3 linked regions of the Homo sapiens genome follow. The protein of the gene in region 2 interacts with the protein of the main gene of each other region in a pairwise test. Each region holds a gene or a part of one and is shown on either strand. Other genes may lie near its edges.

The links.
Region 1: the proteins of SLC71A2 (region 2) and RNF24 interact in binary tests that used the Homo sapiens proteins (3 or more experiments, as listed by UniProt).
Region 3: the proteins of SLC71A2 (region 2) and TIMMDC1 interact in binary tests that used the Homo sapiens proteins (3 or more experiments, as listed by UniProt).

The regions. Positions count from the first base shown.
Region 1 is NC_000020.11:4,012,285-4,019,904, reverse strand, and holds the start of RNF24 (RING finger protein 24), read left to right. Parts: upstream 1-4,346; 5' UTR 4,347-4,468; exon of another isoform or gene 4,469-4,760; intron 4,761-7,620. UniProt on the Homo sapiens protein: May play a role in TRPCs intracellular trafficking.
Region 2 is NC_000009.12:94,447,262-94,454,729, reverse strand, and holds part of SLC71A2 (hippocampus abundant transcript-like protein 1), read right to left. Parts: intron 3,275-7,468; coding exon 3,203-3,274; intron 773-3,202; coding exon 660-772; intron 1-659.
Region 3 is NC_000003.12:119,501,353-119,508,820, forward strand, and holds part of TIMMDC1 (complex I assembly factor TIMMDC1, mitochondrial isoform 1 precursor), read left to right. Parts: intron 1-2,179; coding exon 2,180-2,268; intron 2,269-2,601; coding exon 2,602-2,669; intron 2,670-7,468.

The DNA of each region.
Region 1 (7,620 bases), on a different chromosome or scaffold from region 2:
GATGAAGAGGCTCGGGGAACACAGAACATCTCCTCCTCTACTGGCACAGTCCAACGGGTCAAAGCATTATATGATCAACCCTTAAAGGGGTCATTTAGAACTCTGAATAATTAAGCTTTCAAAGGATTGACCAGTGGGAGGGATGTTTTTCTGAAATCGTGCCATCTCAACAGATGGGGAGGATGGACAGAGGAATGGGGCTATAGGCAACCTTTGATTTCTAGCTTCTGTTTGAAAGACTGATTTTGTCTTGACCAGTCAGGCATTCATTCAACAAACTTGTATTGGGCACCTGATCCAAAGATGACTAAAACCAGCCCCTGTTCTCACTGTTCCAAAATTAGTCAGACGTTTGATTTAAAAGTAGTTGTGATTTCTTTTCCAGGAGTCTTGAAGGACTTCTGACCATATGGGTAGGGACAATTTTCTGAGATGGATTTGGGGTGAGGACATTGCTTAAAAGGAGGTATAAGGGCTGGGCGTGGTGGCTTACACCTGTAATCCCAGCAATTTCGGAGGCCGAGGCAGGTGGATCACCTCAGGTCAGGAGTTTGAGACAAGCCTGACCAACATGGAGAAACCCCGTCTCTACTAAAAATACAAAATTAGCTGGGCGTGGTGGCGCATGCCTGTAATCCCAGCTACTCAGGAGGCTGAGGCAGGAGAATTGCTTGAACCTGGGAGATGGAGGTTGCAGTGAGCCGAGATGGCGCCACTGTACTCCAGCCCAGGCAACAAGAGCGAAACTCCATCTCAAAAAAAAAAAAAAAAAAAAAAAAGAGGTATAAGGGAGGAGATGGGAGGGGACTGTGGGGAGGAAGGATAAAGAGAAAGAGGGGCATCCTCCGAAACTCCAAACAGTGAAGTCTTCCCTACCCTACCCCTACCCATCATGTGGAACAAGGAAAATGTTAGCTGCGAAGCCACCACTTCAAGTCCTAGCTGCCTGCTGTTTTGAGGTACCCACCTAAACCCTCCAGAGAAAGAATTGCCCACCCACACTCTCCCATCACTTGCATTTTGCCTAGACCAGTGGGGGCTGGGAGTGGTGGGGGGATGAGTAGACTCATGTGCATCACTAAGCAAAGAGGATCAGGGACTAGCAGGTGAACCTCCAGCCGGAAGCACCAGGAGGACAAAAACTGTGATTTCTTCCTTAAGGGGAACACGGGACAACCCGCTACAGGGGACAGAAGAGCAGGATCCTGCCATATGTTGTAGAAACTGTGAGGCCAGATTCCACCTGTCCAGTCCCAAAGGAAAACTTTCTCCTTGACCCTAAAAACCAGTTGGGCCAGTTGATGACACAGCAAAATTTTAATAAGATGAGTCTCCCTGAAAACAGCAACTGGACACGGCCCCTCCTCCTTCCGTTCATTCTCTCATTCTCTTTCCCACTCACCCCTAATTTTTTCAAGAACAAAAGACATGAAATGAGCCACTCCATCCTCTACCCTACAGCCTGATTGGACTAGTGAATTACTAGCCAAGCTTTCTAAACAAACAAACAAAACAGGTTTCCAAACGCAGGGCAGAGGAAGGAAGCCAAAATAAGGAAGAAGAAAGAAAAGGAGCTCAGCCTTTCCTTCTCCTGTGGAGCCTCCCCAGCCCACCAGGGAACATCACCTCCACCAATAGCCACAGCAGACCCACTATGTGCCAGTCACATATTAGGTCCTGGGAGATACTGATCCTGCTGATGAAGGACTCACATGCTGGTGTGGTAAGAAAATATGCAAATGAGCAGGGACCTTGGAGGGTGCCTAGTGCTGAGAGGGAAGTGGGTACAGGGCACAGGTGGGGATTCTCAAGGAAAGTCTGTCAATAAGTGGGGGCAGAAAAAAATACTTTATCAAAAATGACTTTGTAAATACTTTACTTTTTTTTAGAGCAGTTTTAAGTTTGCCACAAAAGTGAGAGGAATGTGCAGAGTTCCCAACTAGCCCTTCCCCCCTACACATACATAGCCCCCCCATTATAAACATTCTCCCACGGGAGCATTTATTACTATTGTTGGACCTACATTGGCACATCATTATCACCCAAAATCCATGTTTACATTAGAGTTTGCTGCTGGTATTATTCATTCTATGGATTTAGACAAATGTGTCATGACAGGTATCCACCATTATGGTATCATACACAGAGTATTTTCACTGCCCTAAAAAGCATCTGTGGATTTTCAGAGAAAAGAGCAACTTTTGCATGCTAGGTAAGTATTGCTTTCCTAGTAGGGGAACAGCAGGAAACAGCAGTCACCTTGGTGACTACTGAGGTGAAACACCATGGTGCTGTTCTGTAAATGGCTGGAAAATAAGGCTCAAGGAGCCAGATGGGGCAGGGAAAAAGAAAAAGACAGAAACACAGGCAGATTTGAATACCATGAGAATCGATTTGCATGAGAATGGATTGAGACTTCTGCAACAGCCCAGGGGAGAGATGAGGGGGCTGATTTAGAACAGTGAGAGGTTTGAGCAAAGCAAAGTTGAAAAGACCCTCCAGGTAACTGCTATGATTGACAGCAAGGAGGGCAGTGTTCCCCCAGCACAGCCCTGGCACAGGCAGCTCTAGAGGAAGCCTGGGTCTCCCACTCCCTTCCTTTTGCCACAGTCTCCCTAGCACATGCCTCCACCCTTCTCTCACTTTGGGGGACTGTGACCATTGGGTGGCAGGTGACTTCTTGAGAAATTCACTAATGTTTCCCTCTTTACTTCCTCCCTGCCTTGGTGGTTAATGGTTTGCCAAAGCAGAAGGAACATGCCTCTAGGCGCTTGCCATGATGACTTTTGCTTCCCAAAGTTAAGCTACTGAGCTGTTTATGGTTTATGTGATGGGGCCTGAGAGATTAGGAGAAGGAAGGAGAACTTCTGGGGGACACATGGAGACTGAGGAAGAGGGGGCAATCATTTTTGCAAGCTCTGAGCTGCAGCGCACACACAGTCAGCTGTGGAGCTTCACAGCCATTCCCTCTGCAGGCTCCTAGCCTCTCCAGAAACTTCCGTACCCCAGGAGTGGCAGACACAAGGCGATGGGAACAAGAGAGTATCTGCAGAATACACTGCCTGCTAAAGACAAGAGAGGACTCCCCAGATCCTTGCCTTGGTATTGCAGGAAGAGCTCAGCCTCCCAAAATCGGAGGTCAATTTATTGCCTGCCCTGTAGAATGGGAGCCGGAGGTTGAGGAGTGGATGTAAATAAAGGAATGCACTGTTTCTTGCACACACCTCTCTCCACTATCTGGGCAGAGTCTAGGTCTCATCCATCACCAAGGTTCTAGCACTCAGCTGAGAGGCTGCAGCAGGAGGGGCAGATGGAGGAGGGTGCGGTGCATACCATCTCCCCATCAAACCAATGGGCACCACGTGACCATTCTTGTGTCTCTGGGGACTGTCAATCTGCATGCTAGGAAAGGGGTGGCATTCCAATCTTTCATTTTTTTGTGTGTGAGACGGAGTCTTGCTCTGTCACCCAGGCTGGAGTGCAATGGTGCGATCTTGGCTCACTGCAACCTCCGCTCCCCGGGTTCAAGAGATTTTCCTGCCTTAGCCTCCCGAGTAGCTGGGATTACAGGCATGAGCCACCACACCCAGCTAATTTTGTATTTTTAGTAGAGACAGAGTTTCTCTATGTTGGTCAGGCTGGTCTGGAACTCCTGACCTCAGGTGATCCACCCGCCTTGGCCTCCCAAAGTGTTGGGATTACAGGCGTGAGCCACTGCGCCCGGCCCCATGCTTTCACTTTTAAAAATGCTTGTAGGGCACGCAAAAATACTAAACGGTCGATGGAGAAGGTCTGTCTGGAGTAGTTGTTTTTTTTTTTTTTTTTTGAGACAGAGTCTCGCTCTGTCGCCCAGGCTGGTGTGCAGTGGCACGATCTCGGCTCACTGCAAGCTCCGCCTCCCAGGTTCAGGCGATTCTCCTGCCTCAGCCTCCCAAGTAGCTGGGACTACAGGCGCCCGCCACCACACCCGGCTAATTTAATTTTTTGTATTTTTAGTAGAGACGGGGTTTCATCGCGTTAGCCAAGATGGTCTCGATCTCCTGACCTCGTGATCTGCCCGCCTCAGCCTCCCAAAGTGCTGGGATTACAGGCGTGAGCCACCTCGCCCGGCCTGTCTGGCGTAGTTCTAACCAGGAACAGAGCCAGCGGCCAGGGCCGCACCAGGCCTGGCCAGGGAGCGCCGCGCCTGCGCACTGCAGACTCTGAAGCCGCCGAGCCCTCCGCCGAGGTGGGTGGGGAAACTGCCCGGGCATCCGGGTCCCTCACCCCGCCCCCGCTGCATGAATGAGAGGCGCGGCGCCCGCCCCTCCCCCGGCGGGCCCGCCCCTCGCGAGGGGCCGCCGGGCGCAGTCAGCCGCCGCCACCTCCGCCGCGCTCTGTCCGGACGGACGCTCGCCGCCCGCAGCCTGCCGCCCGCCGCAGGGCGCTGACGGTCCCGCACGTCTGCCGCTGCCACCGGCGCGCCCGAGTAAGTGAGCGAGCGAGGGCGGGAGCGCCGCGGCCGCCGCCCCCGGGCTGGGGTTTGGGGGACCGAGCCGCTCCGGGTTCGGGATGCTGAGGAGACCGCGGGCCCGCGCCAGCCTCCCACACACACACACTCTCCCGGCGCCTCGGCCGGCCGGGCGCGGTGTGCAGGGGTGAGGCGGTGTCTCCAGGCTGAGGAGGGACGCGGAGGAGGGTCCGGCGCGGCCCCGGGACTGGAGGGTGAGTCCCTCACAAAGGGCGGAGCGGGGCTGTCACCTGGAGATCACGGAGGGAAGGTGCGTGGGCCCCCGCACGTCCTGCTCGCCCAAGCCCTGGCATCGGGTCCCCGGGCGTGGGAGGCGGCTGGGATGAGCTGGGAGGCTAGGAGGAGGATGGCGAGGACGCTGCCCCCGCGTTGGCGGTGGGCGCGCGCCTTGGGGGGTGCGGCGTGGCAGTGTTTTCCTGGTCCCCGTCCACTCCTCCCCTTTCTTTGTGGCGCTTGTCTCGTGCCCCGTTGTCACAGTGTGCATGGCAGTGGTCGGGGTGGAGACCTCTTCCCTCGGCTTACTCATTAATGAAAGTCACCATCTGTGGGCAGGGGGCGTGTGTGGTTCCACAGGCCGGAGAATTAAGGACCCTCCTTTGTTTCTGGAGACCTAATGATGTGTGTGTGTGTGTGTGTGTGTGTGTGTGTGTGTGTGCGCATTCAAGTGAAAGGGACATCTATGAAATGAGAGAATCAGAGATTGTCAAAAAGGGTATGAGGAAAAGGGGAGGGGATATAACTTCATCACACCTTTACCCAATTCTTTACCTGATGTTATTTCAAACAGTTTTTTCTCACTGTAAAACCAGTGGGTTTTATTCATTGGAAATGTGCATCTAAATTCTCATATATCTGTGTTTCTAGAATACTTTGCCTTTTTGGGCTTAGTTAATGGTAAGATTCTCATGTCTGTCTACATAGGAATACTCCACCGTACAGGACACTGCTTTCTGGGTTTAGTTCATTGATAATTTGTCCGAATGCTCATAAACATGTCTATAGGAATACTCCAATATATCTAGGACACAGTTTTCTCCGCTCCTGAATACAGGCAGATTTTGTTTCTTTCTGCCTCCCTGTGTTAATGAGAAGGTAGTCCAGCAGGTTCTCTCTACCTCCTTGCTTTTTTTTCCCCTTAATGCTTTGGCAGAGGGTTTTATTGCATATTACCCTGGCATGCGCCCTTGCTTTGATGTGAATTTTCCTGTGTTCTGTTGTCTGGTTGTACAGCCCAGCTCAATGGCTCCTCTTACAGGACTACTGGAAAACAGAACACCTTTTTTCATTGTCCTCATCTCCAGAGAGAGAAGGAAGCGCTGTAGGTTCCCACAAACGTTGACTCTGTCAGACTGCCTGCCTGACTTTGTTGTGTTGGTAAAGTTATGAAGAGTTGCAGTTGTTGTAGACCAATTAAAAAGAGGCTATTGGGATAACACCAGCTCTTCCTTGCTATTTTGGTTTTAAAACAAATGATATGAATTTTGCAAGATAGTTGTTAACTCTGGTTGCATGATGATTTTCAGTTTCTTTTTACCCATATACTTTTACAGGGTGTTGGGAAATTAGCCACTCATTTACAAGAAACACACCTCCAAGGTATTTTTATTATGGGTCGGGTGCGGTGGCTCACACCTGTAATCCCAGCACTTTGGGGGGCCGAGGTGGGTGGATCACCAGAGGTCAGAAGTTTGAGACCAGCCTGGCCAACATGGTGAAACCCTGTCTCTACTAAAAAAATACAAAAAATTAGCCGGGCATGGTGGCGAGCGCCTGTAATTCCAGCTACTCGGGAGGCTGAGGCAGGAGAATCGCTTGAACTCCCGGAGGCGGAGGTTGCAGTGAGCCTAGATCGCGCCATTGCATTCCAGCCTGGGCAACAAGAGCGAAACTCCGTCTGAAAAAAAAGCTATTTTTATTATGATCTTTGGATTCAAAATAGCGGTTTTAAAAAATTAAGAGGCGCTTATATTGGATGATATGAATAATTGTATGGGTTCTGTTTTCTTTAAGATTCTCTGTAATATTTTTAAAAATCACATGTATTTTAATTCCTAGTAGTTTTCAGTGGAAAATGAAATGTAAACTAAGCAGTCTTCCACAGCATCTGTTTATGTATATTCCCTCTGTTTAAAACATTTGCTTTTAATTTGAAGGGGAAATTTTCCATGGTCAGTTCAGGATACATTATTCTTAGTAAAATTCTTACCACGTTCAAATTCTTTTTTGTAAGAGTAAAAAAAAATTAATGAAAGTTGATTTTTCAATTGGGGATGTTTTGGTTTTAATGCATGATTTAAATAAAATCTTAATATCAATTAATTTAATTCAGATAAGTTAATTTAAAACAAGGCTTTTATGAAGGAAAAATGAAGCAGAAAAAAAAAAACAAGAGCTTTACTAACTAAAGTCACTAATGTTGAAGTAACCCAGTACATTTATAAACTGCCTGTCTTGACTGCATAAGACATTTTTTAGGAGTCTCCTTAAAACAAACCGTAAGGGGAAGTCTTAGATAAACAGAGTAGCATAACCGGAATTATCACTGAAATAAGCTTGCACAGTATCGCAATTTCATGGAAGTTTAATTTTGCAAGAGTGACTTAGCTATTTTTAATATCAACAAAGGAACCTAAACACAGCCTGGCCTTGTTATTCAGCATTCTGTTAATCAAAGTATTTGCCAACCCATAGTTTAGCATTCTGTAGTATGATGATTGAAGAAAAAATCTAAACTAACTTTTAGATCCTTAAAATAGATAAAATAATGTTAAGTGCTGTTTTAATAGTAAATATTTATTCATTAGAATAGTAATATTATGTTAGTGATGGTAAGAGCATAGATGGTAACACTTTGTTAACTAGGATCTATTATCCTCCCAGTAATGTCTCATAATAAAAAGTAATTTATTTTTCCATTGAGCATTCTCTATCAATAATTGCTTTTTTGTTTTTTGGGTGTTTTGTTGTTTTTTTTTTTTGAGATGGAGTCTCACCCTGTCCCCTAGGCTGGAGTGCAGTGGCGTGATCTCGGCTGACTGCAGCCTCCGTCTCCCAGGTTCAAGTGATTCTCATGCCTCAGCTTCCCGAATAGCTGGGAATACAGGCACTGG
Region 2 (7,468 bases):
CATTTTTTTTGTATCTTCTTGTTTTGCTTTTGACTATATTCAATGTCTCTAAAAATTAGCATATGTGGCCAGGTGCGGTGGCTCACGCCTGTAATCCCAGCACTTTGGGAGGCCGAGGCAGGCAGATCACAAGGTCAGGAGTTTGAGACCAGCCTGGCCAACATGGTGAAACCCATCTCTACTAAAAATACAAAAATTAGCCGGGCGTGTGGTGAATGCCTGTAATCCTAGCTACTCAGGAGCCTGAGGCAGGAGAACTGCTTGAATCCGGGTGGTAGAGGTTGCAGTGAGCTGAGATCATGCCACTGTACTCCAGCCTGGGCAACAGAGTGAGACTCCGTCTCAGGGAAAGAAAAAAAAATTGGCATATGCTTTAAAAAGTAGACATAAAACTTTATTTGGGGGCTGGAGGGAAGAGAGAGATACATTCAATTAAGGAACAATTCCGTGAAAGTCCAATGACATAAAGGTAGTCTTTATAAATAATCCTGTTATCTAGCTCCACATTTCCCCAAATTAAAGCCTAATGGTTTCTGCAATGTTGAATACACCAAACCAGCAAAATAACCCTTGCTTCCTTCTCATCACACCCAACCACCCCAAGCTCCTCTAAGAGGCATCTGTCTGGCAGTTCACGAGAATCTAAGAGTGAGGCTTACCAGGCCTGTGATCCAAAACCGTACCAGGCTAACTGGAGCATCTGGAAGCCCAAGCCAAGGAGGACAGTATTCTTATTTCCTAATGATCTCATCAAGATGCTAAGAAAGGCCGTCTGCAAAGTAAAGGAGACAACTCTGAAAAACCACATCAACACACAGAATTAAAATACAAGCTCTGTGTGTGAAGACCCTTCCCTGATGACCAGAGACCTCTAAGGGCACACTGCCTGACCTGCAACCTCAGAGTCTGGACAGTACTGATGACCTTCTACAGGGGTGGAGTGTTGGGGGCTCCCAGCCTGACCTGGGGCTCAATGCTTTCAGCCTCCTCCCTAAGAAGCCTGTCTACCTGGTGCTCTGCTGGCACTTCCTGAAAGGATATCACAACTGTTCACCAGTTACCATGACTGAGAGGGACAGCCTCAGTCTCTGGAGAAATACTAATCACTTAAATATCTGTGAATAGCAAACTCCTGCTGAACATTTACAGAATATGAGAGCTTCTGCTGGAAGTTTACAAAGTTGGAATTGGGATGTAAGTTTGATTTTAACAAATATATACTCTGCTAAATATAACTAGTTGAGAAAGTCTAAAAAGGGGTTGGATGAAAGATGACTGGGCTGGCCGGGTGTGGTGGCTCATGCCTGTAATCCCAGCACTTTGGGAGGCCGAGGCAAGCAGATCACAAGGTCAGGAGTTCGAGACCAGCCTGGCCAGCAGGGTGAAACCCTGTCGCTACTAAAAATACAAAAATTAGCCAGGCATAGTGGTGCACACTTGTAGTCCCAGCTATTTGGGAGGCTGAGGCAGTAGAATCACTTGAACCCGAGAGGCAGAGGTTGCAGTGAGCCGAAATCATACCACTGCACTCCAGCCTGGGTGACAGAGCGAGACTCCGTGTCAAAAAAAAAAAAAAAAAAAGATGGCTGAGTTTATGTTTGATTTTGTAAAAAACCAAAATGATCAACTTGAAAGGTTAACATAATTTACATTTGCAACACATTTCAACAAAAACAAAAATATAAACGGCCTTTGTTTTGATGCATTCCCATAAGCCTTGTCAAATGTAGTAGTTTTGCGGCCTTCTCATTTCTCCTTGAGAGAGGTTACCACAGAAGAATGCTCTGCTTTCCTGGTAACCATTTCAGGGAAAACAACCCCTAGGCAGTACCATAAAATATAGTGAGTGTGCCTTGGCACAACAGTGAATTAATTTAAGGACAATATGCTTCATCTTTTCTGGTACTGTATTTACAATAGATAGGGAAATGGTTAATGCTCTCTACTCACTGAAAATCATTTATCAATACCTATATATAATAGATATTTATATATAATATCTATTATATATATATGAATATATATGAATATATGAATATATATGAATATATGAATATATATGAATATATATGAATATATATGAATATATATATGAAAATATATATATATATATATTCTCCCTCTCTCTTTTTTGAGATGGAGTCTCACTCTGTCACCTAGGCTGGAGTGCAGTGGCGCAATCTCGGCTCCCAGCAACCTCCACTTCCCAGGTTCAAGCGATTCTCCTGCCTCAGCCTCCTGAGTAGCTGGAATTACAAGCACATGCCACCACACCCAGCTGATTTTTGTATTTTTAGTAGAGACAGGGTTTCGCCATATTGGCCAAGCTGGTCTGGAACGCCTGACCTCAGGTGATCCACCTGCCTTGGCCTCCCAAAGTGCTGGGATTACAGGTGTGAGCCACCGTGTCTGGCCCTCACTGAATATGTTTTAATGCTCTGATTCATATTTCTTCAGTCCTGGGAACAGTCGGAGTTAAAGCAGTTACAGATTTTCATTTCTGCTTTTCATTTCTACTTACTTTTCAACATTAAAATAACACTGAACCATTTTCCTAGTTGATTTTGCAATCCAGAGATAGATTATAATTATTTACTATTTTGGTTGGTGTAAAAGCAAATAAAATAATTGACCCAGCAGAGGTTACGACAAATATTCTAAAAAGTAGGGAAAGTTGTATCAAAGTTCTCCTAAATCATCTTTTCTGAGAAAACACTAAATGGCAGATGATGCTGGTGCAAGGGGAGCACCAGAGGCCCCCAGGGGCCTGGGATGGGGAACCACTGTGGCTTCCGAGGAGACTTAGGCAGTGGCATCGGGGCCAGGGCCCCTGAGCTGAGGAGGCAAGGCTGAAGACAAGAGTGGATGCCAGTCACCAGGCTGGGCTGCCTGGTCAAGGATATAATTTTAAAAACATTGTTTTAAATAAAAACATAAAAAATTTCCCCTAAATTACAACCTCAAAAAAGAAAATAACCTCTACACATTATATAAGAAGGAATAGTTCTGTGGACCACATTCACATCAGTTTCTTGATCTGATATTATACTATAGCTTGCAAGACCTTACCATAGCAGGGGGTGAGGGACTGAGGTAGCAGCTCAGGGAATATCTTCCTGCATTTTTATATGTGGCTTCCTGTGAAACTATGGTTATCAGGATATTTTTTAAATTTTTTAAGTATAGATAAAATGATACTCACCTGAGCCACAATAGACAGAATTCCTACCATAGCTATGAATGCTGCAATTTTAACAGATCCAAAACCTATGACCTATGGAAATGAAATGAAAACACTTTAGTAATATAGATATTATAAAATAATAAGAAATATTATGTTCTATTACAATGATAAGTCTAGGAAAATTCATAAAACCAGTGGCAAATTAAGACATGCTGAAAGCTGAACCTATATAACCAGTAATTTATATCTAAAACTGATGTAAGAAATCGTTATAAGCAGGCACAACTTAAATTGTGAAATGTTTTATAGACATTTTCTATTATATGTCTACCTGTTGTTTTATATACCCTCTCCATCCCCAACCCACAAGTTGATAAATATGGTATCAAGTAATAAAAAATGAAACAAAATGACTGACTTTTGATGCTGCCAATACAGCATTGCTCATTAGCAAAGCCAGTGGCTCTCAACTTTGCCTGCACATTAAAATCATGATGTAAGCAAAAGACAAGGGATAAGGAGAGCAAGGGAAGGAGAGCAGTGAGATGCTGGAAGACCACTGGAGACCAGTTAAATCAGGCTCTCTGGCGGTATGACCCGGGCACAGGTATGTTTTAAAAGCTCCCATGGTGATTCTAATAAGCAGCCAAAGTAACCTGGCAATGATTTCTAAGCCTCTGACCGTAACAGTATCTCCGAAATGTCTACAACTTTTAAGACTTAAATATCAAGTTTTTTAAAAGTTACGTTATTTTGGGGCTAGGTGCAGTGGCTCACGCCTGTAATCCCAGCACTTTGGGAGGCCAAGGCAGGCGGATCATCAGGTCAGCAGTTCGAGACCAGCCTGACCAACATGGCGACACCCCGTCTCTACTAAAAATACAAAAAATTAGCTGGACGTGGTGGCGTGTGCCTGTAATCCCAGCTACTCAGGAGGCTGAGGCAGGAGACTAGCTTGAACCTGGAATGTAGAGGTTGCAGTGAGCCAAGATTGTGCCACTGTATTCCAGCCTGGGCGACAAAGTGAGACTCCATCTCAAAAAAAAAAAAAAGTTACATTATTTTGCCCTATATTAAAATTCAGGAAAAGGACCTTAAAAATTATGGGATTAAATTATATACATTATTCTCATTTCACAAATGAGTGTCTTGCTTCCAGGGACACAACTGGCTAATGAAAAGTCCTAGGGCTAGAACCTCTGGACAGCCAATCCAGTGCTGCTGACATTAACATTTTGTTTGAAGTTTTAAAAACTGGAACCGGAAAATGTAGATTTAGGGATTCTCAGCCTTTATTTGTAAATATATATTATTGTTAAAGAGCTTTATTAAGATAGAATTTAAATACCATACAATTCACCCATTTAAGTGTGTAGGTCAATGGTTTTAGTATATCCAAAGAGTTGTGCAACCATCAGCACAATCAAAAGTGATTTTCATCATTCCTCAAAGAAACGTAGCAGCCATTAGGAGTTCTACTCCCCTAACCTTCCCATCCCCCAACCGTTAGTCTACTTCCTGTCCCTATGGATTTGCCTATTCTGGGCATTTCACATAAATGAAATCATACAATGTGCAGTACTTTGTGACTGGCTTCTTTCTCTGAGCATGTCGTCAAGGTTCACCTATGTTGTAGCACGTATCTGTACTTCATTGCTTTTTACTGCTGAATAATTAACATTCTAATGTATAGGCATATTTGTTAATCCATTCATTAGCTGATAGACATTTGAGTTGATTCTACTTTCTAGACATTATGAATGATAATCTGTGTACAAGTTTCTGTGTTAGAAGTGTGTTTTCATGTCTCATGGGTATATATACCTAGGAGTATATTTGCTGAGTCATATGGTAACTATATGTTGAATATTTTGGGGAACTGCCAGGCTGTTTTCTTACAGCAGCTGTACCATTTTACATTCTCACCAGCAAGTATGAGGGCTCCGATTTCTCCACATCCTTGTCTGTCTTTTTGATAGCCATCCTAGAACATGTGAAATGGTTATCTCATTGTTGGTGTGACTTGCATGTCCTTGACGGCTAGTAATGTTATTCTTCTTTTCCTGTGCTTATTGGCCTTTTGTAGATCTTCTCTGCAAAATCCTTTGCCTATCTTTTCAACTGAGTTGTCTCTTTATTGTTGAGTTATTGTAAGATGCTATTAAGTCTTTTATTATAAGAGTTCTACATGTATTCTGGATACAAGTTATTTATCAAATATATGATCTTCAAATATCACATGCAAATTTAACTAAAATGTTAGTGTGTTAATTGTTCTTAGCAGCCAGCAATAATATAAAATAATATGGAATGATTCCGATTTGTCATAATTGGTGGTGGTGGTGACATGAGCATATGTGTAGGAGAAAAGCTAGAAGAATAAAATAGTCATAGTTGTTTATTACCTACATAAAGAGATGTAACTTTTTTTTTAGCTTTCTTCCTTGGACTGTCTCATCTTCCTACATTATTTTCTGTGTTAAATGCATATGTAATGTAATGCACAAATTAATTTAGACACAAGTATAATTTTCTACACTATCTCACCATTCTTCCCTCTAAATCTCTAGCATACAACCACCAAAAATGAACAAAAGAGAAATGCCTGGGAAAGATCGGGTGTAGTGGCTCATGCCTATAATCCCAGCATTTTGGGAGGCTGAAACAGGCAGATCACTTGAGACCAGGAGTTCAAGACCAGCCTGACCAACATGGTAAAACCCTGTCTCTACTAAAAATACAAAACTTAGCTGGGTGTGGTGGTGCATACCGATAATCCCAGCTGCTTGGCAGGCTGAGGCACAAGGATTTCTTGAACCCAGGAGACAGAGGCTGCAGCGAGCCAAGATCACGCCATTGCACTCCAGCCTGGGCAACAGAGCAAGACTCTTGTCTCCAATAAAAAAGTAAAAAGGTTTTATTTATATGCCACCACGTAAAATATTAGTCCCATACCCTCAGGAAAACTATCAGAATGAAGAATTTAATACACTTCATTTTTAAATACAACCAGAAAAAGAGGAATTTATCTTAGGAGGAAGCTTGCTGTGTCAAAGTAAACCATTAGGAAAAGGCCTGCCTTCCAATGAAATCAGTAAAAGACCACAGGATGCAATGGAAAGGCAGCTTAGGTCTGAGCAATCCCAGAGAGCTGAAGAACAGTTGAAAGGGGAAGTTTTTGGTTTTCTTTTTTTTAATTGCTTTAAGTCAATTATCTGTTTTGGGGGACAAAATAGGGTATAAATTTTTTTAAAGTGTAAAATACTCTAGAGAGGGAAGATTTTGATTAATGCTTTTGAGTCCCCCTGAAGTCCACAGCAGCAGTTGAGCTATGACCTACTGAAGGTGCCTCAGCAAGCTGGCTTCAATCAGACCTGGAACAAGGGCAGGTCTGAAATAAGTTTTATCTGTTAAATTTAATTAATATTATTAAAGATTAAAACATTACAGTACATGAATGTTACAGCAGCTTTATGCACAACTGTCAAAACTTTAAAGCAAGTAAGGTGTCGTTCAGTGGGTGAATGGATAAACTGGCAAATCCAAACAAATGCCAAAAACAAAATGAGCTATCAAGCCATGAAAGAACCTTAAATGCATATTATTAATTGAAAGAAACCAATCTGAAAAGGCTACATACTGTATGAAAAAAGGTAAAACTATGGAGACAATAAAGAGATCAGTGGTTGCCAGGGGTTGGTGGTGGAGGGAGAGATAAACAGGCATAGCATAAGGGATTTTTGCAGTGAAAATTCACTGTGTGATACTGTAAGGGTTGATACATGTTATCATGTCATCATACGTTTGTCCAAACCCATAGAATGTACAACACTAAGCATGAACCCTAATGTAAACTGTGGACTTTATGTTAAGATAATTTGTCAATGTAGGTTCATCAGTTGTAAAAATTTCCCACCCTCGTGGGAGATGTTGATAGTGGAGGAGGCTATGCATGTATGGGGATAGGGGATATATGGGAAATCTCTATATCTTACTCTCAATTTTGCTGTGAACCTAAAACTGTTCTAGAAAAATAGTCTATTTAAAAAAAAAAAAAAAAAAAACAGGCTGGGCACAGTGGCTCACGCCTGTAATCCCAGCATTTTGGGAGACCGAGGCGGGTGGATCACTTGAGGTCAGGAGTTCGAGACCAACCTGGCCAACACGGTGAAACCCTGTCTCTACTAAAAATACAAAAATTGGCTGGGCATGGTAGTGCACGCCTGTAATCCCAGCTACTCGGGAGGCTGAGACAGGAGAATCGCTTGAACTCAGAAGGTAGAG
Region 3 (7,468 bases), on a different chromosome or scaffold from region 2:
AGTACAAAGATTTCCTATATACCTTTCATCCGGATTCTCCATTGTTAACATTTTACCATGTTTGTTTTATCATTCTCCCTCTGTATAATATGTACTAATTTGTTCTGAGCTACTTGACAGTAGGTTATAGACATGATGAATACTTCAGTGTGTTATTTCCTAAAAACAAGGAAATTCTCTTATACAACCACAATTATAATATCAAGATCAGGAAATTAACACAGATATAGTACTATTATCTTATTTAAAGACCTGTAAATTTTGCTAGTTATCCCACAGTATCATTTATTTTAAAAATAAATAAAAAAATGTATTTTTCAGAAGTTAGGCTTGAGTTCTTATTAAAAAATTAATTAATTAAATTTTTTTTTGTCTGGTCCAGAATCTGACCCTGGATCACATGTTGAATTTGCCTGTTATGCTGCTTTGGTCTCATTTAGTCTGGAAGAGTTTCTCTGTTTTTGTCTTTCATGGCCTTGACTATGGGTGATTTATTTTGTAGAATGTCCCTCAATTTGGGTTTGTTTGATGGTTTCTCATGACTGCATTCAGACTATGTTTTTTGACAGGAATACCCTAGAACTGAAATTAAATTAGAAACCCATGATATCTCTGTCCCTTTACTGGTGATGTTTACTTCAGTGACTTGCTTAAGATGGCCTCTGCCAACTATACACTGTAAAATTACTATGTTTTTCCTTGGTAATTTATAAGTATTTTGAGTACTTGTTAGTTCCTTTGAGACTATGTAAATATCCTGCTTTTCATCAAATTTCTACTACTTAAATGCTATTATAAACTATAATATTTCTACTATCTAAAAACTATTCTAAATTCTTAGCATTTATAATTTTTTTATTTTTTTAAAAATTATTTATTCCTTTATTTATTTTTTGAGACAGGGTCTCACTCTGTTGCCCAGGCTGGAGTACAGTGGCACAATCTTGGCTTGCTGCAACCTCCATTTCCCAGGCTCACTCGATTCTCCTGTCTCAGCCTCCCAAGTAGCTGGGACTATAGGCATGTGCCACCATTCCCAGCTAATTTTTGTATTTTTTGTAGAGACAGGGTTTTGCCATGTTGCCCAGGCTGGTCTCAGAGTCCTCAGCTCAAGCAGTTCACCCCCTCCTTGGCCTCCCAAAGGGTTGGGATTATAGGTGTGAGCCACTGTGCCCAGCCTATTTTTATTTTTTAATTAATTAATTTTTTTTTTGAAATTTTTTGAGGCAGGGTCTTCCTGCCTCAGTGCAGGCTGGAGTGCAGCGGCGCGATCATAGCTCACCACAACCTCAAACTTCTGGACTCAAGGTTTCCTCCCGCCTCAGCCTTCCGAGTAGCTAGGACTGCAAACACACACCACCATGCCTAGCTAATTCTTAAATTTTTTTTGTAAAGGCAGGATCTCGCTATGTTGCCCAGGCTGGTCTTAAACTTGTCGGCTCAAGTGATCCTCCCTAGTTGCCTCCCAAAGTGCTGAGATTACAGGTGTGAGCCACCATACCCAGGCAGTTTTAGCATTTAATGATGATTCTTCCTGTAACAATTATGACTGTGGTGGCCAAATGGGCATTTTCTAAAGTCTATCATTCTTTCTACATTTATTGGTTAGTATTATGCTCTAAGGAAGTGTTTTCCCTTCCCCCCTCTATTTACATATTTATTTATCTATTTATAATTTATTTCTATCAGTAGGGACTCATGGATTCTTATTTTATTCTGTAGATTTATAATTCATTACAGGTTGAGCAGCACAAATCTGAAATCCTGAATGCTCAGATTCAAAACTTTTTGAGCATTGACACGTCATTCAAAGGAATTGCTCATTGGAGCATTTCAGATTTCGGTTTTTTGGATTTGGGATGCTCAACCAGTAAGTGTTAAAAGCGCATATTCCCAAATCTGAAAAAATCCTAAATCCAAGTATCAGATAAGGGATCTGGTCTCAAGTATCAGATAAGGGATACTCAACCATTTTTTCATCTCCTGATAGGATAGGCTACACATGGAACTTTTACGTAAGCCTCAATACTTAAAGAATAGTATTTCTAGAGATTTTCTAGTATTTCTATCTGTTTGGGTGTACCTGACTAATCCATAGCTAAAATTCCTCTACCGCAGTTCTAGAATAAGGAAAATATGATGGTGTCTTAGAACCTCACAGTTTTTTAATTAACTTTAGCAATCTGCACATCGTGCTGCCACACGAGGCTTCATTCGTTATGGCTGGCGCTGGGGTTGGAGAACTGCAGTGTTTGTGACTATATTCAAGTAAGTTCACTCTGAATTGTGAGATAGTGAATTTTCTTGATATTGTTTTAGGAGTGTGTCTTTTGAGCAGGTGGGGTTATGAAAACTGAATACCCACATGAAAGTGATTAATAATGCCTTTTTTTTTTTTTCAAGAACTTTTCTCTGTGTAAAAGACTGGTGTAGTTATGGTTTTACAACCATGTCTGGAACACATTGAAGGGGCCTAGGCTAGGAACAGGGATTGATATAGTAGGCTTTTCTAAATCTATTAAGTCAGTGAAAATAACACTCAAGAAGGTAAATGGGATATGCTTTAAATCTTATATTTTCCTTCTCCTCCCTTTTTACCAGCACAGTGAACACTAGTCTGAATGTATACCGAAATAAAGATGCCTTAAGCCATTTTGTAATTGCAGGAGGTAAGACATTTTTGTTTATATTTTTCAGTCTTCTCAAATACAGTTTAGAAAATGTGTAAGGACTTATACATCAGAACTACTGAATTCTTTGGTTGGCTTCCCATTACATCTCATCAACATTGATGCAAAATGTATTTATGGACAGTGTTGTGCTTCACCCTTGATATACTCAATGGGCAAAACAGCAAGGCCCTTGCTTTCTTTGAATTTTAATGTCTAATATGTATGTGATAATACAGGTTGTTGTGATAGAAAGTAACAATTCGGTGGAACAATGGGATCTCATATGGACAGGGTAGTCAAAGAAGGCCTTTCTGAGGAAGTGACATTTGAGCTGATACCAAAGAATAGGAAGGAGCAAGACTTGCAAGGAAGGGTGTCCTAAATAGAGGGAACATCAAGGGGGAAGGCTCTAAGGCAAAACATTTCCTTAAAAGCAGGATAATAACGTGGTGAGTGAGGGAAAGAGTAGCTTGAGATGAGATTGGTGAGGACTATAGGAATGGACTAGATTTTTTATGGTAAGAACTTGGATTTTATTTTAAAGCTCTCTGCCTCTAGTATATATATGTATATTTTCTTTTTAATGAGCATTAAAAATAGAAGGTACAATGGTGATTACCAGAGACTGGATATGGGGTTGGAAAAGATGTTGGTCAAAGGATACAAAATTTCATTTAGACAGGAGGAATAAGTTCAAGAGATCTATTTAAAACATGGTAACTATGGTTACTAACAGTGTATTGTATACTTCAAAATTGCTTTTAAAAAGTAGATTTTGGCCAAGCGGTGGCTCACACCTGTAATCCCAGCACTTTGGGAGGCCAAGGCAGGTGGATCATCAGAGGTGATTTGAGACCAGCCTGGCTAACATGGTGAAACCCCGTCTCTACTAAAAATACAAAAATTAGCTGGGTGTGGTGGCAGGTGCCTGTAATCCCAGCTACTTGGGAGGCTGAGGCAGGAGAATCACTTGAACCCAGGAGGCAGAGGTTGCAGTGAGCTGAGTTCACGCCATTGCACTCCAACCTGGGCAACAAGAGTGAAACTCTTGTCTCAAAAAAAAAAAAAAAAAGTAGATTTTAAGTGTTCTCACCACAAAAAATAGTATGTGAAGTAACGTGTAGGTTAATTAGCTTAATTTAGCCATTCCCCAATATATACATACTGCAAAACATGTTATACACCATATGTGTACAATTTTTACTTGTCAGATTTAAAAAATAATTTTAAAATGAGCATTCGTTTCAGAAAGGTAAGTTAACTGCTATATACACTCAATCACTAACTTGTGTACATTCTTTTATGTACAACACACATATGTATTCTGAACATAAGTTTGTTTTTGTTTTTTTTTTTGAGATGGAGTTTTGCTCTTGTTGCCCAGGCTGGAGTACAATGGCGCGATCTCAGCTCACCACAACCTCCGCCTCCCAGGTTCAAGGGATTCTCTCCTGCCTCAGCCTCCCTAGTAGCTGGGATTACAGGCATGCGCCACCATTCCCAGCTAATTTTTTGTATTTTTAGCAGAGAAGGGGTTTCTCCATGTTGGTCAGGCTGGTCTCGAACTCCCGACCTCAGGTGATCCGCCCATCTCGGCCTCTCAGAGTGCTGGGATTACAGGCGTAAGCTACCACGCCCGGCCTGAACATAACAGTTTTTAAATGTTTTTTTGGGAATAAGCTTACAAAAGATTGCAAAATAAAAATAATACAAAGGGCAGTCTCTATCCTTCACATACAGAGACTTAGCCATTGTTAACAATTCATGCTGAGAATTTATCCGAAATTAAGTCAGACAACTTGCTTTATCTTCTTGCTACTGCATGCACTCTCCCTCTTCTCTGTGTATATGTGTACACACATGGGAAAACACACAATTTGAACTTTTTTTTTTAACTTTTAACTTCAGGGGTACATGTACAGGATGTGTAAGTTTGTTACTTAGGTAAACGCGTGTCATGGAGATTTGCTATACAGATTCTTTCATCACCCAAGTATTAAGCCTAGTATCTTAGTTGTTTTTCCTGATCCTCAAACAACATTTTAATGAAAACTTTTTAAAATACAAAACTAGAAATAGGCATTAATAGCGTTAGAGCAGCCAGATTGTTTCATTTTTAAATTTGCAAGCATTTTTACATGGGTCTTGTCTACCCACTTTTACTTCCTTACTTGCTCCTGCTGTTACGTTCTCTGTCAATTGTTAAATGTGAAAACCAGGCCAGGCACAGTGGCTCACGCCTGTAACCAGCACTTTGGGAGGCCAAGGTGGGCAGATCGCTTGAGTATAGGAGTTTGAGAACAGCCTGGGCAACAAACATGGCAAGACCGTGTGTGTGCAAAAAGTTATCTGGGCATGGTGATTCATGCCTGTAGGCTCAGCTACTCAGGAGGCTGAGGTGGGAGGATGGCATGAGCCCAGGAGGTCGAGGCTACAGTGAGGTGTGATCATGCCACCTCATTCCAGCCTGGGCGACAGAGCGAGACCCTGTCTCAAAAAAAAAAAAAAAACTAGAAACCAAGGAATGATATGGTTCTGCTCTTTTTTCTCTTTCCACTTCTTGTCCTATTAATTATACTCATTAAATATATATGGATTCTTTCACTTCTTTTTTCCCACTGCTACTATCTTATCGTCCCTGTTTCTAATCTTGATGTGCTCTACCTGTAACCTAGTTACATTTTTGAAATATGAATATGATTTTGCCACTTTTCTGTTTGAAATTCTTCTATAGTTTCCTGTCACTTTAATGTCAATTCTTGATCTGGCTTCCATGCGCCACTCTTTTGCTTTCACTTTACAATCTCCTCGGATTTCCCAACATGTTCTTTCCTTTTGTGAATCAGTCCCTCTTCTTGAATGCACTTTCCCACTACCACAATTAATTTTGTTCGGCTCCTACTTAACCTTACCTTTCAAAGTCCAGATCATTTGTCAGCCTCAGCTTCCCTAGAGAGTTCTCCCTAGCCATTTTCTCCCTAGCCATGTTTAGTTCTATTTAGCTGTCTTTCCCTTGTGTTCACATACTTCACTGTTTTTTTCTTTATCTTTGATTTTCTGCAGTTTGAAAATGATATGCCCAGGTGTAATTTTGAGGAACATTTACTGTGCTTGGTGTTTTCTGAACTTTCTGGATCTGTGGTTTGTTGTCTGACTTAATTTAGGATAAATTCTCAGTGATTGTTTCAAAGATTTCTTTAGCTTTCTCTTCTCCTTCTGGTGTTCTAGTACACTTATACCTTTTGTAATTGTTTCACAGTTCTTGGATATTTTATTCTGTGTTTGTTTGTTTGTTTGTTTTTGGTGGAGGAGGTTCCCATCTTTTTTCTCTTTGTCTTTCGGTTTGGGAAGTGTCTGTTGATAATGTCTTCAAGCTCAGGGATTCTTTCCTCAGCTGTGTCCAGTCTACTATTCTTCAGTTCTGTTACAGTGGGTTTTTAAATTTGTTTTATCGCTAGCATTTCTTTTTGATTCTCTCTTCGAATTTCCATCTCTCTGCTTATATTGCCCATCTATTCTTGCATGCTATCTACTTTATCCATTAGAGCCCTTAGTGTATTAGTCATAGTTGCTTTAATCTCTTCATATGGTAAGTCCAGTATCCCCACCATATCTGAGTCTGGTTTTGGTGCTTACTCTCTTAGTTTTACTTGGTCTCTTCAAACTGCTTTTGCCTTTTAGGATGCCTTGTAATTTTTTTTCTTGATAGCTGGACATGATGTACCTGGGTAAAAAAGGAATTATGGTAAATAGGTCTTTAGTAATTTGGTATTAAGATGTGGGAGAGGGAAAGTGTTTTGCAGTCCTATGATTAGGTTCTTAGTCTTTTAGTGAGCCTGTGCTTCTGAACTGTTAACTTCACAAGTGCTTTTCAGTTTTTTTCCTCTCCTTTGGTGGGACAGGATACTACAGTGGGTTGGAATGGGTATTTCCTTTCTCCCACATGGGAGGCTAGAGCAGTTGCATTTGGATATTCCCCAGGCTGGTTAATCTCTGACAAAACCCCAATAGTTTGGGCTGTGCAAAACCATTTATCTTGAGGGCAGGCCTTAGTGAGAATAACGGAATGTTCTGGCATATTTCAAAATGGTTACTTTTCTTCCCCCTTGCCAGAAGCCTGAGGGGATTTTTCTCAGATCTTTACTGGGAGAACTTGGTAGAGCTCCTGGAGTGTGGGGACCCTCTATGATTGGCTCCCCTACAGTTTTTAGGTCTTAGACTTTTCTACACTGAACTTCCAGCAATTTATCATTTATAGTCAAGGTTTCCTACTCTGGTACTGGTTTCCATGGAGGCTTCTGCTCGTGGGTTTCTGCTCTAATAAGGTGTGATTCTCTGTATTTATCTGTCTGTCTCTCCTATTTTGAGGGCAGCAGTTTACCCATGATCTCACTTCTTTGGTGGATCTAAGAAGAGTTGTCAGTTTTTCCATTTGTTTAGCTTTTTACTTGTTGTTAGGAATAAGTGATAAACTCTAAACTTCTCACATGCCATACCAGAAACTGGAAGTCTCCCTTTCCTTTTTGCCCCACATCTTGACAAGCTGATAAGAAAGCCCAAGTGCTACCTTGGTTGACACCAGCAGGAAGTTTCAACCATGCAAGCTCAGGCCTACATGAGGGAGCTCTTGCTCTAGCCCCACCTTCTAAAACCACAAGCCAGTCAGTCAGCCTTCAGGTTCTCAAGTCATTTTGGGACATGCTTGGGATCTTGCCTTGCTCTCCCTGGAAAGCCTTATTATATGTGTAATAAACCTTTTGGTATCCTCTTAGTACCTCTTGGTACTTTGGCATTTC